Homo sapiens: one gene and its partners. The protein of the gene in region 2 purifies or fractionates together with the protein of the main gene of each other region. This does not show direct contact. Each region holds a gene or a part of one and is shown on either strand. Other genes may lie near its edges. The genes, in order: DTD2, GBP1 and FERMT2.

Evidence for each region.
Region 1: the proteins of GBP1 (region 2) and DTD2 fractionate together in Homo sapiens (co-fractionation; one large-scale study listed by BioGRID). This does not show direct contact.
Region 3: the proteins of GBP1 (region 2) and FERMT2 fractionate together in Homo sapiens (co-fractionation; one large-scale study listed by BioGRID). This does not show direct contact.

Annotation. Positions count from the first base shown.
Region 1 is NC_000014.9:31,454,616-31,458,827, forward strand, and holds the start of DTD2 (D-aminoacyl-tRNA deacylase 2), read right to left. Parts: upstream 2,892-4,212; 5' UTR 2,779-2,891; coding exon 2,668-2,778; intron 1-2,667. UniProt on the Homo sapiens protein: Deacylates mischarged D-aminoacyl-tRNAs. Also deacylates mischarged glycyl-tRNA(Ala), protecting cells against glycine mischarging by AlaRS. Probably acts by rejecting L-amino acids from its binding site rather than specific recognition of D-amino acids.
Region 2 is NC_000001.11:89,051,713-89,055,256, reverse strand, and holds the end of GBP1 (guanylate-binding protein 1), read left to right. Parts: intron 1-41; coding exon 42-144; intron 145-381; coding exon 382-575; intron 576-1,788; coding exon 1,789-1,902; 3' UTR 1,903-2,938; downstream 2,939-3,544.
Region 3 is NC_000014.9:52,881,445-52,885,098, forward strand, and holds part of FERMT2 (fermitin family homolog 2), read right to left. Parts: intron 385-3,654; coding exon of another isoform or gene 352-384; intron 26-351; coding exon 1-25. UniProt on the Homo sapiens protein: Scaffolding protein that enhances integrin activation mediated by TLN1 and/or TLN2, but activates integrins only weakly by itself. Binds to membranes enriched in phosphoinositides.

The DNA of each region.
Region 1 (4,212 bases), on a different chromosome or scaffold from region 2:
AATGTCAGAAATAAATACCTAATCATTTGCAGAACGATACCTGTTCTTTCCACTAACATTATCTCCTCATTAAGGTCTTTGCCTTTCATTTATTCCATAATAGATGTTAAGCTGTGACTTCAAGTCAAAAATCACTTTCCTTATAACTTCTTTGGTATAAAACATTTCAAATATATAGAAAAATACAGATAATTCTCACTGTAGCTTTAAAAAGTTCACTTACCAGGAACAAAAACATTAGTCTGTGACAGCAAAGTTCTAAATGAATGAAACTAAGAACAAGCAAAGAAAGTAACCTTCAAATCTTGACAATTAAAATGCTGTTTCTAAAAAAACAAGAACTTTTAATAATAGAACAGGGTAGAGAATATGTAAGAAGAAAGAATTTACATTTTCTCACCATCTAAATTACTTGTCAGCTCTTTAAACTAATTTAGTTATGTGTGTAGGAGTGAAAGGGAAAGCCTTTAAAATAGTTTTTAAGTTTATAAACACAAACTGATAGTTTGGATGCCAGCAATAAAATACATGTGATTTTGCATAAGGAGATGTAGCCTGAACAACATAAAAAAGATAAATAAGCATGGAAGGAAACTAAATGACTGATAGTTTGCAATTATAGTGTCTGGATGCAACTATAAAAATGGATAATTCGGCCGGGCACGGTGGCTCAAGCCTGCAATACCAGCACTTTGGGAGGCCGAGGTGGGCGGACCACAAGGTCAGGAGATCGAGACCATCCTGGCTAGCACGGTGAAACTCCGTCTCTAGTAAAAATACAACAAATTAGCCAGGCGTGGTGGTGGGCGCCTGTGGTCCCAGCTGCTTGGGAGGCTGAGGCAGGAGAATGGCGTGAACCCGGGAGGCGGAGGTTGCAGTGAGCCGAGATTGCGCCATTGCACTCCAGCCTGGGTGACAGAGTGAGACTCTGTCTCAAAAAAAAAAAAAAAAAAAGGATAATTATTTTATTTATTATTTATTTTTGAGATGAGGTTTCACTCTGTGGCTCAGGCTGGAGTGCAGTGGCGTGATCTTGGCTCACTACAACCTCTGCCTCCCGGATTCAAGAGATTCTCCTGCCTCAGCCTCCCGAGTAGCTGGGATTACAGGTGCCCGCCACCAAGCCCGGCTAATTTTTGTATTTTTAGTAGAGACGGGATTTCAACATGTTGGCCAGGCTGGTCTCAAACTCCTGACCTCAAGTGATCCGCCGGCCTTGGCCTCCCAAAGTGCTGGGATTACCGCGCCTGGCAGGTTAATTCTTTAGATAGGATGGCAAAATAAAATAATAAAATTTCAAATAAGGAAATCAAGACCTCACAAAAAATCATGACAAAAATAAGAAATAAGAAAAGTGAATTTCTGGGAAAGGAGAGAGATAAGAATACAGGAATTTCTATGCTTATATTTCCAAATTAGCACAGGGCAACAGATTCTGATTTTAGAATAATCACCCACACATCATATAGTTCACGGGTACTATTTACAATAAGTAGGCGGGGTGCGGTGGCTCAGGCTTGTAATCCCAGCAGTTTGGGAGGCTGAGGCAGGTGGATCACCTGAGGTCAGGAGTTCCAGACAAGCCTGGCCAAAATGGCGAAACCCCGTCTCTGCTAAAAATACAAGTTAGCGTGGTAGCTTGCGCCTGTTGTCCCAGCTACTCGGGAGGCTGAGGAAGGAAAATTGCTTGAACCCGGGAGGCGGAGGTTGCAGTGAGCCGAGATCGTGCCACTGCACTCCAGCCTGGGCGACAGATCGAGAATTCATCTCAAAAAATAAAATAAAATATAAATAAATAAAATATAAAAAATAAAATAAATGTAAAATAATAACTAAAATTGTTTTAAGTAATGCTAGATCTGGGACCGAATTCAGCAGAAAAGGCGAGCGAATGAGATTTTGCTACACTGAAGTTTCTGAGTATCTACAAAAGTCTTAATTATGAACTAATTTTTTTCTTACATTTCAACGTACTCCAAAAATACGTCAGAGGCCTTAAAGAAAATTTTATTTGTTTTTGTATGCAGTGGGGGCAGGCGGTCTTAAAAAGTAAAGTATGTATGAAAGTAGAAGGAACTCATAGTGACATAAATGTTTTAAATTCTTTGGAGAAATGTGTTTGATAAGGCAACATTGTTATAAAAGTAGAGGTCTTTGTTTCTCAGTTGGAAATTGGTCAAAACTTTTAAAAGGCTTCTTGAAATAGAATTGTTTCTTAGGAAATCTCATTTCTATGCTAAGACCAAGTCAACATAGGGGGGAATTCGACGCGATCTGAGGCGTAAGTCAAAGCAGATCATGAACTCTTGCAGCAAACCTGACCTACAAGCTTGCCCCCGACCAGCATAGACCACGAGCTGCAAGGGGTCTGAGACAGTAAGGCCTGAAGTTCACCGAACTCAGTTTCAAATACCTGTGGTCCCCCCAAGAAGGGAGACACGCTCTTCCTCTCGGGTGCTACAACTGGCGCTGGGGAACGGTGATGCTGGACCGAAAAGACAAGCGCAGCCAGGCAGGCCACCGCGGCCAGCTTCAAGCTGACCCGGTATCCCCGCGGCCGGACCGCCGGTCTCAGAGGGAGACACAGAGCGGACGAGTCACCGAGACAACGCGGAAAAAACCGCCCCGCACGCCGGAGGATAACGAGAGCTGCCGGGCTGACGTTACCTCCACCCACTGGGCCGCGACGTCCCCATCGGCTGGGCGAATTTGCAGCCGGGCGTGCAGGCACTGCTGTAGGAGCGCCCGGGCCTGAGGAATCCGGCTACCCTCAGCCATGGCTTAAGCCAGCGCCGCGGCCGGACAGTTACTAGGCCATGTGTCGCTGGCCCCTCCCTCGACGCGCTGGCGGGGCAGACGAGGCGGGGCACGACGAAGGGCCTGCGCCGATTGCCCAGTGGCCCCGCCCTTAGGAGGGCGGGGCCTCGGACTGACTCTCGAATGTCCCGGATGTGCGGTCTTGGAGGCCGGCGTAGCGCTAAGCTTCTCGGCAGCACCTGCCCAACTCTGTAGAAGGCGCTCAGTGTATACTTTTATTAAACGATTGAAAAGACTCGTTAAATCTCTTTCCTACAAACCTTTTAAGAAACATTTTTCACCTCAGAAAGCTTAGGTTCCAACTGTTGAAAAATTTTAAATCTGCTTGATTTAAATTCATGTTATGCCCATATGAAAGTAAGTAAACAAATAATCGAATCATAAAGCAAGCGGAGATGGAACTAAAAGCTATATATACATCCTTCAAAATTTTCCTTATTCCAATCAATAAAAACAATGCTGCCTCCTCTATCGGGAATGCCATAAATTATTCTGATTCCACAGTTGTGAAAAGGTATTGGTATGCTATACGAATACACATTCTTTAGAAGATATCCTTGTTAAAAATGTTCTTATCCAAGAAAGTATGATTGTTAATAACTTAGCCCGCTACTAATACAAAAATAAAACAGCTTATTCTGATGCATATGACGTAAATTCTGTGATGCATTTTCTGGAAGTACATATTAGAATGTAAATAAAACTAAACAAGGGCTTGATTTTCTTTCCCATGTAACGTATTCCTTAAACATGCATCAGATTAGCATTTATTTGTCTATGGGCTTGGATGGTTTAGATGAGGAATAATAGTGTTACCCTGATTGCATTACCCAGGTCATTGATTTGGGCTCAGTTGACACAATGTGCCTATACATTCGGATCTGTTGTTTAAAAAGATGACATCACTGACAGTGTTGCTATCCATACAAAGTAGTGTGACTGAAGAAAATAGTCCATGCATAATCAACAGTCCTTTGTACACAAAATCGAAGCTGCTTGTTTGCTGGTTATCTTGCAGCCAGGTTTACACTTTTAGTAAAAACAGAAAGCAAAATCTCACATGATCTCTGATTGTTGCATTGCAGGGATTCCAACAGTTGTTGACATTTGTCTGCAAAGCACAGACAAGTTGAATTGCTTCATGTCTGCACCTTTATGTCATTATAACTACTGAGTCTCTTTTCTCTCCGGCTCTCAGATTCAGATTTTACAGGCCTGAAAGAAACTTTGACATACAAACCATTAGCTATGTCCCAGAATAAGAAAAGACTTTGGTGTCCATTTGTATGTGGCTGCAGGAAATAGGGAGGTCTATAGAGAATAGGTTATGTGGTTCGCAGAGATCTTTCTACAGAGAGGGTTTCTTTAACAAATTGGGAAACCCTTCCTGTGAGT
Region 2 (3,544 bases):
GCCATTTCCTACTTCTCACTCTGTGTTCTCTGGGTCCTAAGGCTGAAGAGATTCTGCAGACATACTTGAAATCCAAGGAGTCTATGACTGATGCAATTCTCCAGACAGACCAGACTCTCACAGAAAAAGAAAAGGAGATTGAAGGTGAGGAGTGAGTTAAGAGATTAGATGGCCTCAAAAGCTCCAAAAATTGAAATAACTTGACTGGATAAACATGGGACCCTTTAACTAGAGCAAGATCCACAAAGGTGTGTCTTACTTGCCGAGGTCATCTCTGAGTAGGGCATATGCAGTCAGCAACAACGACAGGTAAGTGTATAAGGAAGAATGAGGCAACAAGATAACCCCACACAAATTTTTCTTCTGCCTTTTCCTCCTCAGTGGAACGTGTGAAAGCTGAGTCTGCACAGGCTTCAGCAAAAATGTTGCAGGAAATGCAAAGAAAGAATGAGCAGATGATGGAACAGAAGGAGAGGAGTTATCAGGAACACTTGAAACAACTGACTGAGAAGATGGAGAACGACAGGGTCCAGTTGCTGAAAGAGCAAGAGAGGACCCTCGCTCTTAAACTTCAGGTATCTAATTGCATCACCTTGAGGTTTCTGTTTTTCTGTTTTCTCTCCATTCTCCCTGATCGCAAACTTAGTGTGGCAGAGAGAACATGAAGCCCAGGGTAAGGACCCTGCTTGCTTACTTGTACTTTTCAATTCCTGTCTGTCCAGCCTGACTGGCTACTGCCAAGTCTGGTCACTGAAAGTTTTTTATTTGCAGTTGTGTAACATTCAGTCCTTTATCAATATATCCTTCATTTCAAGGAAGCTATTATCTGCTAGGCATCATTAAAATATCTGTATCTCGGTGGGGCATTGTGGCTCACGCCTGTAATCCCAGCACTCTGGGAGGCCAAGGCGGGCGGATCACGAGGTCAGGAGATTGAGGCCATCCTGGCTAACACGGTGAAATCCCGTCACTACTAAAAATACAAAAAATTTAGCTAGATGTGGTGGCGGGCACCTGTAGTCCCAGCTACTCAGGAAGCTGAGGCAGGAGAATGGAGTGAACCCAGGAGGCAGAGCTTGCAGTGAGCTGAGATCGCACCACTGCACTCCAGCCTGGGCAACAGAGCGAGACTCCAAAAAAAAAAATCTGTATCTCTTGCTTAATAACATATGTAGCAAGAACTATATCCTTATTACTTAGAAGAAGAAACAAAGGTTCCAAAAAGAATAAATAATTAAGTTCACACAGCTAGTAAATATATCAGAGCTGTCTTCATCACTTAGCGGAATCCACAATGATTATTTGTTTCTGTGACACCTACTATGAAATTAGATTTAAGAAACCTTTATGAGCAGAAAGGCTCCTAACCCTCACACCTGTGTGATACTCTGCTAATTCTGATTATTTTTAATGTCCTGCTCCCAGTTTGTTTTGAGTTGTGAGCTATGTGCAGAAACTCAGTATGGTCAGTCTGGCACTCAGATTTCTTACCTGTCTTCTGCTACCCCTGACACCAAGGTGTGGCAGCTTAGACCAAATTTCCTAATCCATGATTCATACACCTTATGAGATTTTGAGGATACTTTGCTTATTTCGGTGTTATGTCATATACATAATAGGGTAAGGAACATGGCTGTGCTTTGGTCAATGATAGGCCAAAGTATGACATTTACGTCTTGCGTGACTCAGAGAAAATTAAATAACAAATCATTTAATGTGGAAACCAGATAGAATGTTTCAATTTGCCTGATGCTACACTTTACTCAGCCTTCGTTTGTCCCTTTTTAGGAACAGGAGCAACTACTAAAAGAGGGATTTCAAAAAGAAAGCAGAATAATGAAAAATGAGATACAGGATCTCCAGACGAAAATGAGACGACGAAAGGCATGTACCATAAGCTAAAGACCAGAGCCTTCCTGTCACCCCTAACCAAGGCATAATTGAAACAATTTTAGAATTTGGAACAAGCGTCACTACATTTGATAATAATTAGATCTTGCATCATAACACCAAAAGTTTATAAAGGCATGTGGTACAATGATCAAAATCATGTTTTTTCTTAAAAAAAAAAAAAGACTGTAAATTGTGCAACAAAGATGCATTTACCTCTGTATCAACTCAGGAAATCTCATAAGCTGGTACCACTCAGGAGAAGTTTATTCTTCCAGATGACCAGCAGTAGACAAATGGATACTGAGCAGAGTCTTAGGTAAAAGTCTTGGGAAATATTTGGGCATTGGTCTGGCCAAGTCTACAATGTCCCAATATCAAGGACAACCACCCTAGCTTCTTAGTGAAGACAATGTACAGTTATCCGTTAGATCAAGACTACACGGTCTATGAGCAATAATGTGATTTCTGGACATTGCCCATGTATAATCCTCACTGATGATTTCAAGCTAAAGCAAACCACCTTATACAGAGATCTAGAATCTCTTTATGTTCTCCAGAGGAAGGTGGAAGAAACCATGGGCAGGAGTAGGAATTGAGTGATAAACAATTGGGCTAATGAAGAAAACTTCTCTTATTGTTCAGTTCATCCAGATTATAACTTCAATGGGACACTTTAGACCATTAGACAATTGACACTGGATTAAACAAATTCACATAATGCCAAATACACAATGTATTTATAGCAACGTATAATTTGCAAAGATGGACTTTAAAAGATGCTGTGTAACTAAACTGAAATAATTCAATTACTTATTATTTAGAATGTTAAAGCTTATGATAGTCTTTTCTAACTCTTAACACTCATACTTGAAAACTTTCTGAGTTTCCCCAGAAGAGAATATGGGATTTTTTTTGACATTTTTGACTCATTTAATAATGCTCTTGTGTTTACCTAGTATATGTAGACTTTGTCTTATGTGTGAAAAGTCCTAGGAAAGTGGTTGATGTTTCTTATAGCAATTAAAAATTATTTTTGAACTGAAAATACAATGTATTTCACTAGGCTTCTTATTTCTGATTTTCTTTTTTGCAGTTATTTTTATCAGAAAATAAGGTTTTACTCTTTATGGCAATGGCTGGTAATCTTTTCTGTAAAATACCAGATAGTAACGATTTATGGCTTTGCAGGTCATACAGTCTCTGTCTGAATTACTCAGCTCTGCATGTAGTGCAAACACAGCCATAGAAAATACATAAACCAATAGGTGTGGCTATGTTCCAATCAATTTTTACTTTCAATAACAGGATGGCACCCATAAGCCATAGTTTGCAGAACTCTGTTTTACAGAAACATTGGTCAGAGTTTTATATACCTGCATTGTGTTACTCACATGTATAAAAATCATATGGATTAGACTATATATATTACAATCTTGAAAAAACTATGCGGTTATTCAAAATAACACAGTGAGAAAAAAGCAAGGAAGCAGCTAATGCCATTAAATCCACATTAATAATCCTGTCTTTCCTAATTGCTTTGAGGCCTTTTGTTACCTTGAACTACCTGTGATCCAATCACACGGCAAATGCCTCCTTTCACAATAGAGCATGGTGCTGCCAAGCACTGTTTCTTCACTTGAACTGAAACTTT
Region 3 (3,654 bases), on a different chromosome or scaffold from region 2:
AGTCCTGGGCTTGAATATATACTTCCTAATAAGTAACATGAAAAACAGGTAGTAAGTATGCAGTACAGCATCTTATTTTTCAATAATAACACATATTATGATATAAAGCACATTGTGAAACAAAAGTTTTATTCTGAAAGGAAAGCTTAGTATATTATTTTACCTGTTATGAAAACATGTGTAATTAATTCTCCTTGTATAACATTAAAACACGTAATAAAGCCTTAAGAATATAATTAAGTTGGCAGAAATTCTGGGGAAAAAAAATCAGTTCAAGAGAATTAGAAAATAAGGATATAGCTGAAGCAGACAGACCAACACTTTTTGTCTTTAAATTGTGGCAAGGCTCACCTTTCAGAGGGCCAATGTAAAGAACATCAGTGCCTATAGGAAAGGAAAGAAAGGAATTCAGAAGGTAAAGGAAAGGCCACAACAGAGGACAGAAACAAAAGAATGAAAAGAAAATGAGAAAAAGAAAAAACAGATTTTCCCTAATTGTGAATCATAAACTGAAGTACACATTTCAAGTGGATTTCAGAGTAAAGAACCTTAGAAGCTACAACCTAAGTAAAACGGTTTTTTTTGTTCAATTTAAAAGAATGAAGTTGTGCTGTAGTCAAGTATATAGTGACAAATATGTCTACAACTTTTACCACCATTTGAAATCCATACAATTTGAAGGTAACACAATAGAACTGAATTCATATAGATTAAGAATAATTTTATAGTAAAGTCTTCTCAGTGAATAAACAGGTTTCAACAATTTTACAAATAAAGTTTTTTTTAATTTTTAAGTTCTGGGGTACAACAAATAAAGTATTAATGTAAAAGGGGAGATAAAAGTCTGCCCTAGAAAGAGTCTAAACAGAGATATATTTAATAGTCAAATCTCAAAAGGAAGGGATATTGCCTTATTTATCTTCTGATTTCTTAGTATTAGGGCTAGACATATAGTAGAGGTTACGTAAATAACAATTTGTTACATTAGTCAACAGATGGTATGTGCTCCTTTATTTAAACTACAAAAATTAAGGAGATGAATTTAAGGCATCTAAAAATGTTCAGAATGACATTAAGGACAAGCAGCTCCCCCAAGTCCTAGCTCTGTTAAATTATATTTTGTCCTGTTGTCATAATTTTTCAAAAGAAAATGTGCAATGGGCATAACACTGTTAATGTAAAGAAAATGGCTTTTCCATTCCCTAAATTTAGGGTTAAGCTTAGAAATCCATCTCCTTTCCTACTATTTTTAACTCTTCTCCCCATGCAATGATAGAAACACTGCCTGTGAAAAAGTGGTGCTAATGCTAGAGATTTTTGTAGCTGTCATGACCTAGTCTAGGAAGCAAAGTTAAAAAAAAAAAGTTTTTACTGAAAATATGTAATCTCTTGCTGGACACAGGATATTTGATTTTATGTCCCTGACATGTGTTCTTCCAATGTTAGTACTAAAAAAAACCTGTAAAATCTAGGCCAGGTGTGGTGGCTCACTCCTGTAATCTCAGCACTTTGGGAGGCTGAGGCGGTTGAATCACTTGAGGTCAGGAATTCGAGATCAGCCTGGCCAACATGGAGAAACCCTGTCTCTACTAAAAACACAAAAATTTGCCAGGAGTGGTGGTGCACGCTATTCGGGAGGCGAAGGCTGCAGTGAGCCAAGATTGCATCAATGCACTCCAGTCTAGGCAACAAAGCAAGACTCTATCTCAAACAAACAAACAAACAAACAAACAAAAAACCCTCTAAAATCCGAACACTGTTAATCCTAAAACACAAAGCAAAGTTGTGAACTCTTTATCAGCATTTAAAGAATACTGGGATCGTTAGTCCTGGGGCTTTAAAAGCTAGATCCTTAAACTAGACAGGTATTTTTCAAACTTAAAATTGTGTGACACCTTTTGAAAGGACTAATTGGGCACCCCACACTTATTAAATGTGCTGAACACATTACTCCAACTCAGTTGGGCAAAGGGTATTTCTGCTACAGAGTGTGCATGTAGATAAAGTGTGAAAAAACATTAACTTCTAGGCAAAGTCTTGTTTCTTTCAAAGATCTATTAAATAAATCTGTTACGAAGAATGTCAGTATACTGAAAATGTGCACCTGGTGAGATTATAATTTCTATCCAAAACTGAGTCAAGTTAGAATGGACAATTTGCTTTATAAAGTTTCTAATATAGAAAAGATACTCCCCCTAAATCACTGATATGGTTTGGATCAGTGTCCCTGCCCAAATCGCATGTCTAATTGTAATCCCCAATGTTGGAGGAGGGGCCTGGTGGGAGGTGACTGAATCACAGGGGTGGAGTTCTCATAATGGTTTTGCACCATCCCCGCTTGGTACTGTATAGTCAGTGACTTCTCATGAGATCTGGTTGTTTAAAGTGTGTGGCACCTCCCCACTCCCACCCCTACCTCCTGTTCCAGCCACGTGAAGTGCTGGCTCCTCCTCCGCCTTCCGCTGTAATTGTAAGTTTCCTGAGGCCTCCCCAGGAGCTGATGCCACCATGCTTCCTGGACAGCCTGCAGAACTGTGAGCCAATTAAACCTCTTTTCTCCTAAGTTACCAAGTCTCAGGTATTTCCTTATAGCAATTCAAGAATGAACAAATACAATCACACATTTAATAGAATCAGCCACCCACCCAAATCTGCGTTTCAACTTCCTATAGTTTGTATCTTCTTCAATTCATACTTAATCACTTCGTTGTTCTTATTTGTTCTGTAGGCACTATGTGATAATAAACTCACTTAGCGTTCACAACAACTCTATTATTCTCACTTCAGAGGAGCAAACTGAGGCAAAGCAAGGTTAAATAACTTGTCCAAGGTCAAGAGCAAGTAAGCTGCAGCCAAGCTATAAATCGGCCAGTCTGGGCAGGCGCGGTGGCTCAAGCCTGTAATCCCAGCACTTTGGGAAGCCAAGGTGGGCAGACTGCCTGAGGTCAGGAGTTCGAGACCAGCCTGGCCAACATGGTGAAACCCCGCCTCTACTAAAAATACAAAAAATTAGCCAGGCATGGTGGCAGCCTGCCTGTAATCCCAGCTACTTGGGAGGCTGAGGCAGGAGAATCACTTGAACCCGGGAGGCGGAGTTTGCAGTGAGAGACTGCACCATTGCACTCCAGCCTGGGTGACAAGAGCGAAACTCCGTCTCAAAAACAACAAACAAAAAAACCCCAGCCAGTCTGGCTGTAGGGCTACACACTGCCTCCATGTACTATAACTTACGTAAGCCATTCCCAATTGGTGTGCACCTATTTTTTAAAATTCTGTTACTGTAAGGTGGCTCATGCCTGTAATCCCAGCACTTTGGGAGGCCGAGGCAGGCAGATCACCTGAGGTCAGGAGTTCAAGACCAGCCTGGCCAACATGGTGAAACTCTGTCTCCACTAAAAATATAAAAAATAAGCTGGGTGTGGTGGTGCACGCCTATAGTCCCAGCTACTTGGGAGGCTGAGACAGGAGAATCGCTTGAACCGAGGAGGTGGAGGTTGCAGTGAGCAGAGATTGTGCCACTGCAGTCCAGCCTGGGTGACAGAATGAGACTGTGTTTCGAAAAATAAAAATAAAAAAATAAAATTCTGGCCAGGTGCGGTGGCTCATGCCTGTAATGCCCGCACTTTGAGAGGCCAAGGCGGGTGGATCACCTGA